Homo sapiens: one gene and its partners. The protein of the gene in region 3 interacts with the protein of the main gene of each other region in a biochemical or structural test. Each region holds a gene or a part of one and is shown on either strand. Other genes may lie near its edges.

Evidence for each region. Proteins that work in one complex are often made in the same cells at the same time.
Region 1: the proteins of CUL4B (region 3) and OXSR1 interact in a test that uses a peptide from one of them, tested with the Homo sapiens proteins (one study listed by BioGRID).
Region 2: of the proteins of CUL4B (region 3) and ST7, one has a biochemical effect on the other in vitro, tested with the Homo sapiens proteins (one study listed by BioGRID).
Region 4: the proteins of CUL4B (region 3) and DCUN1D4 form a complex in vitro, tested with the Homo sapiens proteins (one study listed by BioGRID).

What each region holds. Positions count from the first base shown.
Region 1 is NC_000003.12:38,224,537-38,228,633, forward strand, and holds part of OXSR1 (serine/threonine-protein kinase OSR1), read left to right. Parts: intron 1-34; coding exon 35-168; intron 169-4,097. UniProt on the Homo sapiens protein: Effector serine/threonine-protein kinase component of the WNK-SPAK/OSR1 kinase cascade, which is involved in various processes, such as ion transport, response to hypertonic stress and blood pressure.
Region 2 is NC_000007.14:116,960,001-116,964,097, reverse strand, and holds part of ST7 (suppressor of tumorigenicity 7 protein), read right to left. Parts: intron 1-4,097. UniProt on the Homo sapiens protein: May act as a tumor suppressor.
Region 3 is NC_000023.11:120,525,866-120,531,080, forward strand, and holds part of CUL4B (cullin-4B), read right to left. Parts: intron 4,390-5,215; coding exon 4,237-4,389; intron 992-4,236; coding exon 896-991; 3' UTR 1-895.
Region 4 is NC_000004.12:51,860,153-51,864,249, reverse strand, and holds part of DCUN1D4 (DCN1-like protein 4), read right to left. Parts: exon of another isoform or gene 3,618-4,097; coding exon of another isoform or gene 3,587-3,617; intron 2,541-3,586; exon of another isoform or gene 2,517-2,540; intron 814-2,516; coding exon 743-813; intron 581-742; coding exon 541-580; intron 1-540. UniProt on the Homo sapiens protein: Contributes to the neddylation of all cullins by transferring NEDD8 from N-terminally acetylated NEDD8-conjugating E2s enzyme to different cullin C-terminal domain-RBX complexes which are necessary for the activation of cullin-RING E3 ubiquitin ligases (CRLs).

The sequences.
Region 1 (4,097 bases), on a different chromosome or scaffold from region 3:
TCACAAGTTTATAGTATATTGAAAATTCTTGCAGGTTTTAATGCTGACACTGCAGAACGATCCTCCTTCTTTGGAAACTGGTGTTCAAGATAAAGAAATGCTGAAAAAATATGGAAAATCATTTAGAAAAATGATTTCATTGTGCCTTCAAAAAGATCCAGAAAAAAGGTAAAATATGAGAAAAAGTCTACTTTTCTCTCTAATAAAACATTGTGAGAAGTCTAAGAATCACATACTCATATGTACAGGAAATTATTTTCAAAAGAACTAAATATAAACTTTAAAAAAGTATACAGAGACCATTATACTGGATTGGAAATGAATTGATTTCTGCCTTCTTTGTAGTATACAGTGTACCCTAAATAGTTCAGCTTTTTCCTTGTTAATTTCTTACAAAGTTGTACATTGTGAATTCTGTATTAATAAATGCCAAGTTAGTGGAGAGATTTGTTTTTAATTTGCATTTAAAATTTATAAATGAATGTCTTAATGCCATTTACAGTATTAATAAAGGAAAGACACATAGAAAATTTATATTTAGTGTAATAATCATACTTATTTCCATGTTAGAAAGATATTTTAGTAAGTGGACCAAAAATTCAAATAGCTTCCTTATCAATGTTAGACAGATTGAATGACAAGTGAGCAAATAAATAAGAACATCCGATATGTGTAACTTCATGAATTAAGCAGAATCGTAGAATGTTGGGGATCATTGAGTACAACCTTTTATTTTTGAGGTCACTTGATACTTAGTCATAGGAGTAGGACTTGAATCTCAAAGTCCTGATTCCTAACTTAGGGCTCTGTTCCTTCTGAATCTTATCTGTCTGTTTCACATATATATTCCACTCAGCTTCTTAGCACTGAGTTCTTTAATTTTTGTTTCTCTAAAGATCATTAAAAGGGAAAGACTTTGATGTTCTTGATCACATCTCTAGTGTATGTAATAGGGTTTCAGAATTTATTGTTGGAAATATTGGAAAGGGTAAGAAAAACAGGTAGCAAAATTTATACCTGTGTTTTTATAATTTTTTTTTTTCTGTTTCTGAGTAAACAGTTAAAAAAGACAGGAAACACTTTTCTTTTATCAAATTAGTTGGTTAAAGGAACAAAATTATCCTGTTACAAATACCTAGAAATGCCAGATAAAATCTATCCAACTTAAAGATTCTCAGATGCCAGAAATAATGAGGAAGCCCTAAGTTAAAGAAGAAATATTGTGAACTAATCCCATGGCTGTTTTCAGTGGGTCACTATTCATTCTGGTAACCTACTGATTTGGATTTATAACTCCCATGTGAAAACTGGAAGTGAGATCTTGGGTCCACCCAGTGGGGAGTTTGAACTGAGATTCTTCTTAAAGCTAAGAACTTCAGATGTCAGTATCCTTAGTAAAAGGATAGACAAGAATAAAAATTGTCATCACCAAGAGACAACAAAAACCTCTCCTGAATAATCAAGCCCTTCAACCTGGACATTCCACAGGTTTAGAGTCTATACTCCCTATGTTATCCAGGAACCCACAGGATTAGAAAGTTAAAAAAGCTTTACCAAATCAGTTTTTATTTTTGACGGAAGTAGTCACAGAGCTGCACTGGAAGAACACTTTCAAACTCTAGCTCCCATTGGATTCCTGAACATAATGCCCCACTGTAATAAGGTCACAATCCAAAATTAAGAAACACACAGTGAAACAATGCATTATGAACTAGTTAGCAGACACAAGCAGAAGGATTAGTGCTCCAGAAGATTTAGGTAATGCAGTGAAAATCTGAAAAGATACAAAATTAAGTATATTGAAAATAATTAAAATTAGAAGAAATCAGACCCACAAGAGAAGACTGTGACTATGACAGAAGAACCAAATAGCAATGCCAGAAATGAAAAATACAGTGATTAATGTTTAAAACTTTCCATGAGTGTGAGCTGGACTTGTTGACTCACTTCTGATGAGTAGAGTATGAAAAAGGAAAAATAGCAACTTTACAATGCACCTCCTCTACCCAATGACCAAGGTTAACATCACTATTAATAATACATTGATAAGACTGATATGTGCCTCTTGATATGGTGCAATGAGAAGGGCATATATATAACCTGTGAGGTATTCTTCCTCCAAATCCGTAACTTCGGTCTATAATGAGAAAACATCAGACAAACCCAAATCGAGGAATATGCAGCAAGATACCTGACCAGCACTCTTCAAAACTGTCAAGGAAGAGAGACTAAGAAACTGTCACAGATTGGAGGAAATTAAGAAGACGTGAAGACGGAAAGCAAGAGTATCCTATACTAGATCCTGGGACAGAAAAAGGACATTAGTGGAAAAACTGGAGAAATGGAATGAAGTCTGTAGTTTAGTTAATAGTATTGTACCAGTGTTGATATTTTAGTTGATTTCTTTATTATTATACTGTGGTTATGTAAAAGGTTCACAATAGCAGAAGGTGGTGAATGGCATGTAGGAACTCTGTACTAGCTTTGCAGCTCTTCTGTAAGTCTAAAATTATTATAAAACTTTAAGAAAACTGGAAGCTATAGAAAATCTATTCCAGTTTGTAAACCAAAATTAAACTTTGTTTAGAACATTGCTAAGTTAAAATAACACGCACAATGGACTGGTTAAACAGAACAACCAATAAAACAAAAAAGAGATTATTTACTCATCAAGTACCAGGCACTGTGGTAAACACTTAACATATATTGTTTAATTCTCACAGTAATCCTTTGAGGATAGCACTGTTATTTTCTTTATTTTACAAATGAAGAAACTGAATCACAGAGAGGTTAAGTAACCTTCTCCAAAGTCACACAGCTAATAAATGGTGGAATCAGAATTCTGACCCATGCAATTGGACTAGAGTTAACCTGTTTTAATCAGACTACACTATACTGAGGAAATTGCTCAGAATGTGGCACAGAAAGATCAAAGAGGGAATATGAAAGAAATATTAACATTTGGAGGGTAGACTGAGAAGGTTCAGTATGTTTGTGTGTATGCACATCCACACACACACACACACACACACACACACACACACACACACAAATGTACGTATACATATACATGAACTTACCAGGAAAGACTAGAGAGAGTATAGGAGAAGCGATATTCAAAGAAATAATGGCTGAGAATTTTCGAGAGTTGATGAAAGACCTATATTCTCAGAGTAAAGAACCATCCCCCCAGAATTCCAAGCAGTGTCCCCCTTCTTCCACTTGTACAAGTTGCTGTGAAACTACTGGACACGAAGCAAAGACAAACTCCTACAGGCAACCTCGGGGAACAGATTACCTACTGAGGATTAGCAGGTAGACTTGACAGCTACTTCCCCAATAACACAACAGTTGAGGCCAGCGTTTAGTGAAATGCTCAGAGAAAATGCAGTCATGTGTCACTTAAAATGATGAGGATACATTCTGTAATATGTGTATTAGGCAGTTTTGTCATTGTTTGAACATCGTGGAGTGTACTTACACAAACTTTGATGGTACAGCCTACTGCATGCCTAGGCTATTTAGTGTAGCCTGTTGCTCTGACTACTGTCAGATACACAGTATATTGTTGGCCAAAGCATTAAGAGGCTCATGACTGTGACTTTAACCCAGAGTTCTCCAGCTAGTCAGACTATCATTCAAGAATGAGCATGAAATTATTTTGCACACAGAAATTGAGTTTTCCAGTCACGTTCTGTCACTTAAAGAACCCATAAGTTGTACTTTAGAAAGAAGGAAATGAAGTCAGAAGAAAGGAATGAATAATAAGAAGCAATGTTGAGCAATCACATTGTTGAGCATATTGAGAAGCAATTGTTGAGCATATGAAAAAATAAGAGTGATAATGTAGGATTTCAGTTTGCATAGCACTTTCACATTTATTCAGCTTTTTAATCTTTATAATAATCATCTGAGGTGCTGGTTCTTAAACTTGAATGCCTATTGGAATTACCTGGGGAGTTTTAAACATTACTAAAGCCAATTAAAGATTCTGCTTTAATTGGTTTGAGGTACAGCCTGGTCATTGGTTTTGTTTGTTCGTTTGTTTGTTTTTGAGACAGTCTTGCTTTGTCGCCCAGGCTGGAGTACAGTGGCAC
Region 2 (4,097 bases), on a different chromosome or scaffold from region 3:
ACTTCAGAGTGTTTCTGTTTGTGCTGTTTTTAAATGTTAATTTTTTTAAATAATAAAACAAATAGTCCTTCCTCACTGACCTAAGAGATGCCTTTAAAGTCCTTTAACGCTCTACAACCTTGCTCAAAATTTCTGAAAGACTGATACTTAACCACAGTCTTTTATTAGATGCGGAGGTCAACTTAAGAACCAAAGTCGCAGCACTTTGGGAGGCCGAGGCGGGCGGATCACGAAGTCAGGAGTTTGAGACCACCCTGGCCAATATGGTGAAACCCTGTCTCTACTAAAAATACAAAAATTAGCCAGGTATGGTGGCATGCACCTGTAGTCCCAGCTACTCAGGAGGCTGAGGCAGAAGAATCGCTTGAACCCAGGAGGCGGAGTTTACAGTGAGCCGAGATGGCACCACTGAACTCCAGTGCACTCCTACAGAGTGAGACTCCGTCTCCAAAAAAAAAAAAAAAAGAAAAAAAAGAACCAAAGTTAGGGTTCTCCACAGAGTATAAGTGTAACCAGTGCACTTTCAGTTAATTCAGAATGGAAAAAAATGCTTTCTCAGATAAATGTTGCCTTACTTTGCTGAGAGATTTGGTAACTGCAATTAAACAGTGATACCACAGCCACAGCAACATAAAATACTGCTACAGCTAACTAACTGGGCCTGTCAGTTCCTTATTTTAGCACAGTAGGTAGTATAGGAATGCCTGCTAGTTTTAAATGATGGGTAATGGTAACACATCAGCAACTGTCTTGCCCCACTGTAACAAGAAAAATGAGTTTCATTACAAGTTCTCTCTTCTGGAAAATCCAAAGCCCTTTACAGATATCTTTACAACAACATCTCAAATACAATAATGATGTTGAGAGATATTATTCCACATTTACAACAAACAGACAGTAGTGTGGTTTCAAACAATCCAATAACCCATTATCTTGCTTGGTGCAGTTTTAGAAAGAATATCGAGGATAAAAAAGATTCTATTATATAGTTTAATGTGTCATTTCACTGTGAGAGCCAAGCCTATAGAATATAGAATATAGCCTTCTGAGGAAAAGACCTACTATAATGCCTCAGATTTAAATAGTATTTTACAGCCTACAAAGCACTTATTCATTTTACAGTCTCATATGAAGATTGCATTCTAGTCAAGGGACCAAGTCTATCATCAAGCTGTAAGGCCAAAGTCAGTAACTATCTCAACCACACAAATATTCATAGAATGCCCAGACATCCAAATAGGAAGAGAGAAAGTCAACTACCCCTGTTTGCAGACGACATGATCCTATATCTAGAAAACCCCAGAGTCACATAATTAAAGAGCTTCTGCACAGCAAAAGAAACTATCATCAGAGTGAACAGGCAACCTACAGAATGGGAGAAAATGTTTGCAATCTACCCATCTGCCCAAGTCTAATATCCAGAATCTACAAGGAACTTAAACAAATTTACAAGAAAAAATCAAACAGCCCCATTAAAAAGTAGGCAAAGGATATGAACAGACACTTCTCAAAAGAAGACATTTATGTGGCCAACAAACATAGAAAAAAGCTCACCATCACTGATCATTACAGAAATGCAAATCAAAACCACAATGAGATACCATCTCACACCAGTCAGAATGGTGATTATTAAAACGTCAGGAAACCATAGATGCTGGTGAGGCTGTGAAGAAACAGGAACGCCTTTACACTGTTGGTGGGATGTAAATTAGTTCAACCTTTGTGGAAGACAGTGTGGCGATTCCTCAAGGATCTAGAACTAGAAATAATACCATTTAACCAAGCAATCCCATTACTAGGTATATACCCAAAGAATATAAGTCATCCTACTATAAAGACACATGTACACATATGTTTATTGCAGCACCATGTACAATAGCAAAGACATGGAACCAACCCAAATGCCCATCAATGATAGACTGGATAAAGAAAATGTGGTACACGTACACCATGGAATACTATACAGTCATAAAAAAGGAATGAGATCATCTCCTTTGCAGGGACATGGATGAAGCTGTAAGCCACCATCCTCAGCAAACTAACACAGGAACAGAAAACCAAACACTGCATGTTCTCACTCATAAGTCAGAGTTGAACAATGAGAACACATGGACACAGGGAGAGGAACACCACACACCAGGGCCAGTCAGGGGGTGGGGGGGTGAGGGGAGGGAGAACATTAGAAGAAATAGCTAATGCATGCAGGGGTTAAAACCTAGATGACGGGTTGATAGGTGCAGCAAACCACCATGGCACACGTATACCTACATAACAAACCTACACATTCTGCACTTGTATCCCAGAACTTAAAGTAAAATTAAAAAAAAAAAAGAAAGAAAACCCCATAGTCTCAGCCCAAAAGCTCCTTAAGCTAATAAACAACTTTAGCAAAGTCTCAGGATATAAAATCAATGTGCAAAAATCACTAACATTCCTATACACCAACAACAGTCAGGCCAAGAGCCAAACCAGGAATGCAGACCTATTCACAATTGCCCCCCACCACACACACACACACACACACACACACACACACACACACGTAGGAATACAGCTAACCATGGAGGTGAAGGATCACTACACGAAGAACTATAAAACACTGCTCAAAGAGATCAGAGATGACACAAGCAAATGGAAAAACATCCCATGCTCACGGATAGGAAGAATCAATATCATTAAAATGCCCATACTGCCCAAAGCAATTTACAATTTCAATGATATTCCTATTAAACTACCACTGACATTCATCACAGAATTAGAAAAAACTGTTTCAAAATTCATATGGAACCAAAAAATAGCCCAAATAGCCAAAGCAATCCTAAGCAAAAGAACAAAGCTGGAGGCATCATGCTACTCGCTACTCATCTTCAAACTACACTACAGGGCTACAGTAACCAAAACAGCATGATACTGGTACAAAAACAGACACATAGACCAATGGAACAGAACAGAGAACCCAGAAATAATGCTGCACACCTACAACTATCTGATCTTCGACAAATCTGACAAAACAAGCAATGGGAGAAGGATTGCCTATTCAATAAATGGTGCTGGGATATCTGGCTAGCCATATGCAAAAGATTGAAAGTGGACCCCTTCTTTACACCATATACAACTGAAGATGGATTAGAGACTTAAATGTAAAACCAAAAACTATAAAAACCCTGCAACACAACCTACATAATACCATTCAGGACACAGGAATGGGCAAAGATTTCATGATGAAGACACCAAAAGCAACTACAATAAAAGCAAAAATTGACAAATAAAATCTAAACTAAAGAGCCTCTGCACAGCAACAGAAACTATCAACAGAGTCAACAGAAAACCTACAGAATGGAGACAATTTTTGGAAACTTTGCATCTGACAAAGATCTAATATCCAGCATCAATAAGGAACTTAAACAAATGTACAAGTTAAGTACCTCATATTATCTGTATGAATGGAGTTCAGGGTTCTACCAATGTGGAAAAAAATTGTCTGTGAGCAATGACACAGTAGTACAAGAAAGATTTGGTTGGGAAATTTTTCAGAATAATATTGGCAGGCAAAATGAAACTTAACAGAATTGTAACTCGAAGTGATTAGAAATACTTCAGCACAATTTTATGTGTCTGCAGTGGCTCACGCCTAGAATTCCAGCACTCTGGGAGGCCGAGGGGGACAGATCACTAGAGGCCTGAAGTTTGAGACCAGTCTGGACAAGATGGCGAACTCTGTCTCTACTAAAAATACAAAACTTAGCCGGACATGATGGCATGCACCTGTAATCCCAGCTACTTGGGAGGGTGAGGCATGAGAATCACCTGAACCCAGGAGGCAGAGGTTGCAGTCAGCTGAGATCCCGTCCCTGCACTCCAGCCTGGGCAACAGAGCGAGACTCTGTCTTAAAAACAAAAAAACAAAACAAAAAAAAAAGAATCCCAGCGTATTTGGAGGGTGGTGATCTAGAAAAAGAGAGGTGGAAGTTCAGATTTGAGGGGTAAGAAAGAGCCATAGCATCAAACTTTGTAAATGAAGGTAATACACTTAGATTGTATTTTCAATGCAATGGAAGCCACTGCAGGAAGTCATACAAAATCTGGACTTGTATTCA
Region 3 (5,215 bases):
TGAAAACTAGTTGCAAAGTTTTTGCTCCTGTAACAATTTACAAAACACGTTCATTTTGGTCTCTTTTGCAATTTTCTTATTGTATTCATTTTTAATATAAAGAGTTGGATTTTTCTCTTCTATGATGTTCCTCTAGTACAACTGATCATTAATTTTCTACTTTAGCTATTTTTATAAGTACTTGTTAATCAGCACAGTTAACTTGGGGCTAAGCCATATACACACATCCCATACTCATAAATGAAAATTTTTAGGATGTGAATATACAAGATATTATGTAAGCAACTGTCCCCCTACTTGAAAACTTGTTTCCAAATAATTTTTTTTAAAAAACATCCCTTTCAGTGTAACAGAACATCACCTAGTAAAATATCAATAGCTATGACAATTCATTTCTCTTTTCAAGGGAAATCACAAAACGGGTGAACAACCAAGTCAAGGGTGGTTTTTCTATTTGATAAATACATCCAGAACTCTGTACAGTAAATAAAGTTTGCATGCAGTTTAAGTATCTTTAAATGACATTTTAAGCAAATAAACCTTTTGCTTCATAATTAATGGTGTGTAAGAACCCTCCCCCCTTTTTAATAGCCACAGGGATCTCTTTCCCAGTTCCAAAGAGGAATTCATGAAGACCAGGTACGTTCTTAAGTGTTTTCTGCACATCATACTAAATAACATGCAAAGAGTTCAACAACATTCTTCTTAAAGGTAAGTATTACTCTTTAAAATGGGCATGTTAACCACTGAGAAAAAGTCCACTCAACTATTTCCATTAATTACACTGCTTCATTTGGTCATCGGTAGTAAAAAAGGAGTCAAATAATATTGAATCAACAGGTTAGTTTATCCACTGGCTACTGCATATGACACCAAATGCTGCAAGGCCAACATTCTATGCAATATAGTTGTACTGGTTTGGATTTTCTTTATCTCTTTCCATGTAGTCCCGGTCAATTAAAGATTCTATTCTCTTCTTAAGATCAGCAGGCTGTAAGAGAAGGCAAATTTTCAATGTAAAGTTCATTATCATTGGCTCAAGCCCATTTAGTTAATACCCCATTAAAAAGACAACAGTTTCGGCTCATGAATTTAATCTCCTTTTTTAAAATTTTTATTTATTTAAATCTCTTTTTTAGAGAAAAGTATCATGAAAATAAACCAGGTTAAAAAATGTTTTATACACGTTGAAGATTCTTTTTTTTTTTTTTTGAGACGGAGTCTCGCTCTGTCACCCAGGCTGGACTGCAGTGGCACCACTTTGGCTCACTGCAACCTCCACCTCCTGGGTTCAAGTGATTCTTCTGCCTCAGCTTCCCGAGTAGCTGGGACTAGACACAAGCCACCACGCCTGGCTAATTTTTGTATTTTTGGTAGAGATGGGGTGTCACCATATTGGCCAGGCTGGTCTTGAACTCCTGACCTCAGGTGATCCACCTGCCTCAGCCTCCCAAAGTGCTGGGATTACAGGGATGAGCCACCGTGCCCAGGTATGTTGAAGATTCTTTAACGCCAAAAGTGTTTTTGATTTTTGATTTTTTTTTGGAGCTTTTAATTTTTTTAATAGACAGGGTCTTGCTATGTCGCCCAGGCTGACCTTAAACTCTTGTTCTGGAGTAATCCCCCCAGCCTCAGCCTCCCAAAGTACTGGAATCCCAGTACTCACAGGTGTGAGCTACCATGCCTGGTCCTGACTTTTTCATTTTGGTATATTTGCATATACATAGTGAGATACCATGGAGATGGGACCCAAGTCTAAACACAAAATTCATCTATGTTTCATACATACCTTACATAGCCTGAAGATAATTTTATACCTTTTGTGCATGAAACAAAGTTTTGACTGCAACCTGTCAAATGAGGTAAAGTGTGGAATTTTCCACCTGTGGCATCATGTTGGCATTCAAAGTTTCCAATTTTAGAGCATTTCAGATTTTGGATTCTCATTAAAGGTGTTCAACCTGTACTATATACTATACATACATTAAACTGTCACATCCTTGTCATATTGTTACGGAATACTTTCTATTACTTTTCTATTTTAAAGAGGTCATGCCAGAAGCAGCTACCCTTCGCGTGGTTAAATACAAAAGACTACATTTATTGTAACTTCACATGAGCACTGTAAGGTAGTTTAAGGACACAGAATACTAGTTTTGTCAAGATAGTTCATGAAGCACACCTTTACTTTGGGCAAGAGTTAGTTGGCTTCATTTTTATAAATTAAGATTTAAAACGTACTGATGAAATCACTATTTAGACCGGGTGTGGTGGCTCATGCCTGTAATCCCAGCACTTTGGGAGGCTAAGATGGGTGGATCACCTGAGGTCAGAAGTTTGAGACCAGACTGGCTAACATGGCAAAACCCCATCTGTACTAAAAATACAAGAATTAGCCAGGTGTGGTGGTGGGCGCCTGTAGTCTCAGCTACCAGGGAGACTGAGGCAGGAGAATTGCTTGAACCCGGGAGGTGGAGGTTGTAGTGAAACGTGATCGCGCCACTGCACTCCAACCTGGGTGACAGAGCAAGAAGACTCCATCTCAAAAAAAAAAAAAATCACTATTTAAAAGAATACTGGACAGGTGCAGTGGCTCATGCCTGTAATCCCAGCACTTTGGGAGGCTGTGGGCAGATCATGAGGTCAGGAGTTCGAGACCAGCCTGACCAATATGGTAAAACCCCGTCTCTACTAAAAACACAAAAATTAGCCAGGCGTGATTGTGCGCACCTGTGGTCCCAGCTACTCGAGAGGCTGAGGCAAAAGAATTGCTTGAACCCGGGAGGCAGACGCTGCAGTGAGCCAAGATCATGCCACTGCACTCCAGCCTGGATGACAGAGCGAGACTCCATCTCAAAAAAAAACTACATGAAATGGCTTGATAAATGAAGTACCTCATAATTTAGATCTTCATATTTCTGGTTTAGTGCATCTAAGTGACTTGGATTTCTGCATCCTGTGATTTAAAAGTAATCAAGAAAGCTTGTAGCTTTATCTTCATGATTGCATTCTAAGCTCCTGGATGACAAAATTCCACTATATATCTTATGTATCTAGTCTGTAAATATAATATAATCTTGTTTGCTAATAGAAAGTTTTTCAGGATAAGTAAAATGACCACTTGTTCAAGAGGGGAAAAGAGGGGAAGTAGTCTGATACAGCAGTGAAAATTTTATCCAGTAATCCCAAGGTTGGGAAATCAGATGACTTCTCTTAATTATGGTGAAAGACCTAGAATATCAGCACAATATTAACTACAGCGATCCCCTAATTTCCCCAGCATCAGTGATCTCTCTGGCTTGAGGTGAAATGACTATTAAGCAGAGCATGAGGGTGAGAGGGTGGTAATGAGGAGTGCGATATTAGGTTTGGAGAAAAGAAAATGCTTACCTTATTAGAACTAAGAGCTACCGAGTGCTTATTATGTACCAGGTCCAGTGCTAAGATTTTTACATTCATGATCTCACTTAAACCTCACAATAATCCTACAAGGTAAGTACTATTATTATCTCAGTTTTACAAAAGAGGAAACAAGATCAGCATGGTGAAGTGATTTATGAAAGTCCAAAGCTCATAAGAACCCTAATAGCTAGCAGTCTATTCAAACTCTATCAATGTTTATCATCCAAGGGTTTGGCTATCTACCTCCTAAAACTTGGAAAAAAGGCCAGTACAACATCACATTAAGTGACTTTATTATTGGTCATTCACAATGGAACGTTTCCATTTAATGACCAATTTCAGTTTACCAGAACTATCACTACACTTTTCAAAAAGATGCTTAATCATGACTAGTTATCTGTATGGTTTTTAACAGATGATCTCTTATATAAGCTAACTAAACAGGAGATTTAACTCAATCCACAATAACTAAATCTGTCAAATACCATGGTATTTCAATAAATACCATGGTATTTCAAGAGGAAAAGAAGTAAATAACCAACCAAGAAGTTCAAAAGAAATATAGTGAATAAACTTGAAAATTTCAAACACTCATTTAGCAGTTAAACTTTCAGGTATCCAGGCTTTTCTGTTATTTTTCCCTTTTGTCACTGCTGCCCACATATGCCAACAAAGTTTTTTTTTTTGGAAATCATATGCATCAACATGGGAAATTAAAACTTTTCTCTCTCTAAATGGTCATGACGCTTTATGTTTGCAAGATTTGTGTCTGAAAATCTAATGTACTTTCTTTTATTTATAACACGCTCAATAGGAAAACACAGAAGTACCTACCTTTACTGGAAATTTCAACTGGTTGTACACTTCTGAAACAAGGAGATTGTGGCTAAGTGTCTTTCTCATCTTCATAATTCGAACAATTGCAGCATCAATTTGATACTGTCTGTCTTGAAATACTCTTTCTGTAGTGCTTGCTTGTTCTTCAACCTAACAAAAAAGTTTTAAACCTAGGAATTATACCAGAAGCAAAACCTGACTATTTACATAAATTGTGCATTTTAGGGACATGACATTGTTATTGCTTTAAAGGTACTGAATTATCTAAATGGGGTCTTATAAATATAGATGCTGACAGAGAAAAATCCTACAAACATAACTCCTTTCTGTTCTGATTATATTGCCCTATACCAATGAAGTAATGCTAATATTAGTTAATAGAAAAACATCATCTTTGAATTGCTTTTCTAGAAGTAGAGATAGCTGATGTGGAATTTACCATTTTGTTTTTTTACTCTGTCTTTGATATATCTTCTAAATGTGTGTATCAGTTTCAATGGATTGTTAACCAGATTTCTCTATGACAATAGCTTGTCTATAAGGTGACTCTGTCTGATCTCTGACTCAAGGCATGGTATTAACTGGCTAAGCAAACTAGTTAAGAGTCAACCTCTTTGAAAATTAATTTTTATTTTGTAATATATAAATCAGACATGCATGCCATTAGTGCTTACAATCCTTCAAGACTTACAGAAATGTAGGTATTTAGGAGGCGGTTTACCAATCTTGATGCTAAAGTAAAAATGTTCATCTTTAGTAATTAAACCAAAAAAACAGTTTGGCCTTTTTGCAGCAGTTTCTTCCTGGTACAGCATAAATGTTTTAAAAGTAAGGACATGGTAATCCTTTAAGAAAATATCCTGTCTTTGATGTGTATGTGAAAATGACAGGAACTTGTTTGGAGATACTGGTCGCTGTCCTACATTAAAATTTTTTCAGTCGGGCTCAGTGGCTCACACCTATAATTCCAGCACTT
Region 4 (4,097 bases), on a different chromosome or scaffold from region 3:
ACAGAACCAGAAACTCTGGGGTGGAACCTAACATCTGTACTTTAAACAAGGCCTTCCCTCAGGTGATCATAATGCCAGCTAAACTCTGAGAACCACAGGGTTAGAGGATAACTTATACTAATCAAGCTTCAATTTTCTGATTTCTAAATCTTCAGTAACTATGAACACATACACACACACCATATTAAATCATTTTTCAGCTGAATTTCTCAAATATTTGTGGAATACCTTTCAAATTGCATTACTGTAGCACCTTTTTAATATAAATGAAAATACTGCAGTAGAGAAAACAAGGTATCTTGAAACTATGAGAATCCCGAGCCTCTTTAAAGGCATTAAAAAGTGCTTCCAGAAGAGATTTCCTACTGGGAAGAAGCTATAACATGGCTGCCTTCATTACTCCCTGAAAAACAACCTCAGCCAAGGAACAATTTGTTAATGGAGTACATTATGACAACATAGCGCATTCATAGCTAGTATTTCTCTTTCCTAATATTAAGAAGCTATTTAAAATTAAGTAGTGTTAGCATTTACAGATACCTGTTTGGTGATCGTCTTGGCCAATGTCTTCTGTTAGGTTCTGAAAGAAATATGTTCGTTATTACGAAGAAATCACATACCGTTAGCATTTTCATAAACAACTGATATCCTAATATCTAGAATCTAAATTTTTATCAAATACACTTATACAAAATGACTACTTCAAACAGTTGGTAATTTTGTCTTTAAAAGAATGACTTACCAGCTTATTAAGGGTGTGGTAGATCTTATGAATATTTGCCAGTGTTGAGAGATGAGAGTTCAGCTGAAAATCTTGAAAAGAAAAAGGAAAAATGTCAGCGTCATTTATTTCCAATATTGTAAAAAAACAAACTCAGAAAATAAACAAATGTTTTGATATAATTAAATACTATCTCAATTAATTTGACACTAAAGTTTTTTAAAAACATGCAATTAGTGACCTCCTAGAAATAGTCTGACAATAAAGTTAAATTCCCAACCAAATGTTAAAGTTCATGAAATTTTCATGTGAATTCTAAGGTAAAACAAAAAGTACTTCAGTAGTTATAAAATCCTGCCAGCAGTGAACTTGAACTTAATAGAAAGATAAGTCTCAAATGAAATGTTCACTTTCCCCTCTCTTCCCTAGAATTACTGGTACAATTAAGTAAGCTCATGGCAAGAAAATGATAGAAAAGCATCCCAACATTAGTATTTATTTTTTCTTTTCCTTTTTTTGAGACAGGATCTCACTACGTTGCCCAGGCTGAAGTGCAGTGGTGCAATCATGGTTCACTGCAGCCTCAGACTCCCAGGCTCAAGTGATCTGCCTGAGCCTGCATGGTAGCTGGGACTACTAGTGTGCACCATCATGCACAGCTAATTTTTCTTTTTTTTTTTCTTGTAGAGACAGGGTCTTTCTATGTTTCCCAGGCTGGTCTTGAACTCCTGGGTTCAAGTGATCCTCCTGCCTCAGCCTCCCAAAATGTTGGGATTAAAGGTGTGGGCCACTACGCGCAGCCTCAACTTGAAGTAAAGTATGTTTGCATATATATTAGGCAATAAAAATGTAAGCTGAAAGTTTATTAATAATTTCATATATAAGTACCACTGGAAGTATTTTCACAAAATATCAGGATTTACATTAGTTCCTTCTTTCCTATTAAAGGTTAGTATGAAAATGACCATGAAAAGATATTGTAACTCTCCAAGTTATACCATTCTGACAAAAAGAAAGAAAGAAAAAAAGCTCCCTTTACTGAAACATTTTATTTAGGACACGTATCAGATCCAAAGAACAGATCCAAAGAGCAGGTGCTACAATATCAGGTGTCTGTGCTTGGGCTGGATCCTCTGTGCTGCTACTCTGAACCCTGAAAACAAGCTGGCCTCCCTGTTCACAGTTAGAAAGCTTTACTTTCTCTTCTAAAGCTTGTTGGGCATCCAGTTCTGAGTAGGTCTGCAGGGCAGAGGGGCTGGCAGAAGCAGAGCCCCTCACATTCACATGCAGTGTCAGGAACAGCAGGTCATACCTGTATACATACATGTGCATATGCACTGTTCACAGTCATAGCCATATAGAATGGTCCCCAAAACCAGCATTTTGTGCTGAGAGACAGCCAGAGCAGGGCCTCAAGCTCTAAATGGCCCTCCAATATAGACATGCTTGAATTGCTTAGCATCTGAATAGCCCAGCCATGCTTAAGGTAAATGATGACATAAAGTGGCTGAGAATCTGGATTTTTCATCTAAATACGACTGCACAGAGGTTTAGAAAAGTATGTGTATTATACACCTATTTATTTACATTTATATTTATTAAACGTGAACAGGGGTAGAAGCTAGAAGCTACAGCCCTCTCACCAGCAAGAGGCCTCTCAGGACCAGCAAGAGGTGCTGAGGAGCTTGAACATTCAACTCTTGCACCTCCACCCCATCCACTACCAAGCCATAGCCCCCTTTTTGTACTCTCTCAGATTAAATATAGGAAGACAAATGATACATTCCATTATCACCTTAAAATATGAAGTTAAACTCTTGGGCCCCCAAAAAAACAAAAAGCAAAAACTGAGAAAACTTTAGCCTCTTGATTCTCTTTTCACTGAGGGTAAGGGAGGGGAGAGAAAAAGGGGCTTGCCAAAAGCCATTCCAGCAATGAGGTCTCTTCTAACTCTCCAGGCTATGCTTTTGTCATTTCACCACCCTGCTGTTAATTAAACTCCCAAAATTCCCATAAGAGAATCTAAATAAACCAAAACTGTTATATCTTTCTCCCTCCTTTATATAAATGTGGAAGAAGTAGAAAAGACAAGAAACACAAGTTATCCTCAATCTGGAATTCCAGGACTTCGGTGAGCTGGGCCCAACTCATACTCCAAACATCTTTCACCACCCCACTCCACAAAACCCTTCCTTCCAACCCCACATTCTGCCCACTGCCCTTCCTACACCCAAGAGAATTCAAATGTGTGCACACACTTGCACACACACACAAAACCACTCTATTCCTGTCAAAAATCCACTTTGCTTCACAACCTGACTCTGGAGTCTAACAGCTGGTTCAAATCTCAGGTCTACCAATTTTCTCATCTGTAAAGTGAGGATAAAAAATTCTCCTTCATAATGTTGTTGTATGGTTGAAAATATTTATCAGACACCTATTACAATGTCTAGGTATGTCAGGTACCCATTACAATACCTGGAAGATAGTAAGTGCTCAATAAAAGACATCAATTCCGACTATATTTACTTACACCATTCTCCATACCACACAGCTGTCTAAAATAGTCTCTAACTTTTCCTAGGTTCAATTCTCGCCTTACATCAATGATCCCAAGGTCAGAGCTTCCTCTGTAATTGAGGCAGGTGGCCTGGTACATCTTTTAGCCTATGATGGTGATATAGTTTGGATATGTCCCCACCTAAGTCTTATGTTGAACTGTAATTCTCAGTGCCAGAGGTGGGGCCTGGTGAGAGGTGTTTGGATCATGGGGGCGGATCCCTCATGGCTTAGTGCTGTCTTTGAGACAGTGAGTGAGTTCTTATGGGGTTCAGTCATTTAAAAGTGTGTGGCACCTCCTCTCACCCTTTCTCTCTCTCGCTCCTGCTTTCGCCATGTGGTGTGCCTGCTCTCCATTCACCTTCCTCCACGATTGTAAGACTCTCTAGAAGCCAAGCAGATGCCAGCACCATACTTCCTGTAAAGCCTGCAGAACCGTGAGTCAATTAAACCTCTTTTCTTTTATAAATTACCCAGTCTCAGGTATTTCTTTATAGTAATGCAAGAATGGCACTGCGACTCATATACCAGCAACTGATGTTCATAATGTTGACTGCAGATAATCACAACACACAGGAACAAAAATACAGATATTATGTTTAAAATCAGGTTCCACGTATGAAGTTTTACTTTACTAAAGGCAACAAGAGTAAACAGGTTCATTTCACAAATACATAATATATGTCACCAATTATCCATTTCTATATCCAATCCCTATTGCTACCACATCATCATCACTTCAACTAAAAAAAGAAAAAAGAAAAAGGAAGAAATGAAACCAGTAACATGGATAATTTTTCTTTCGTCTCATCAACAT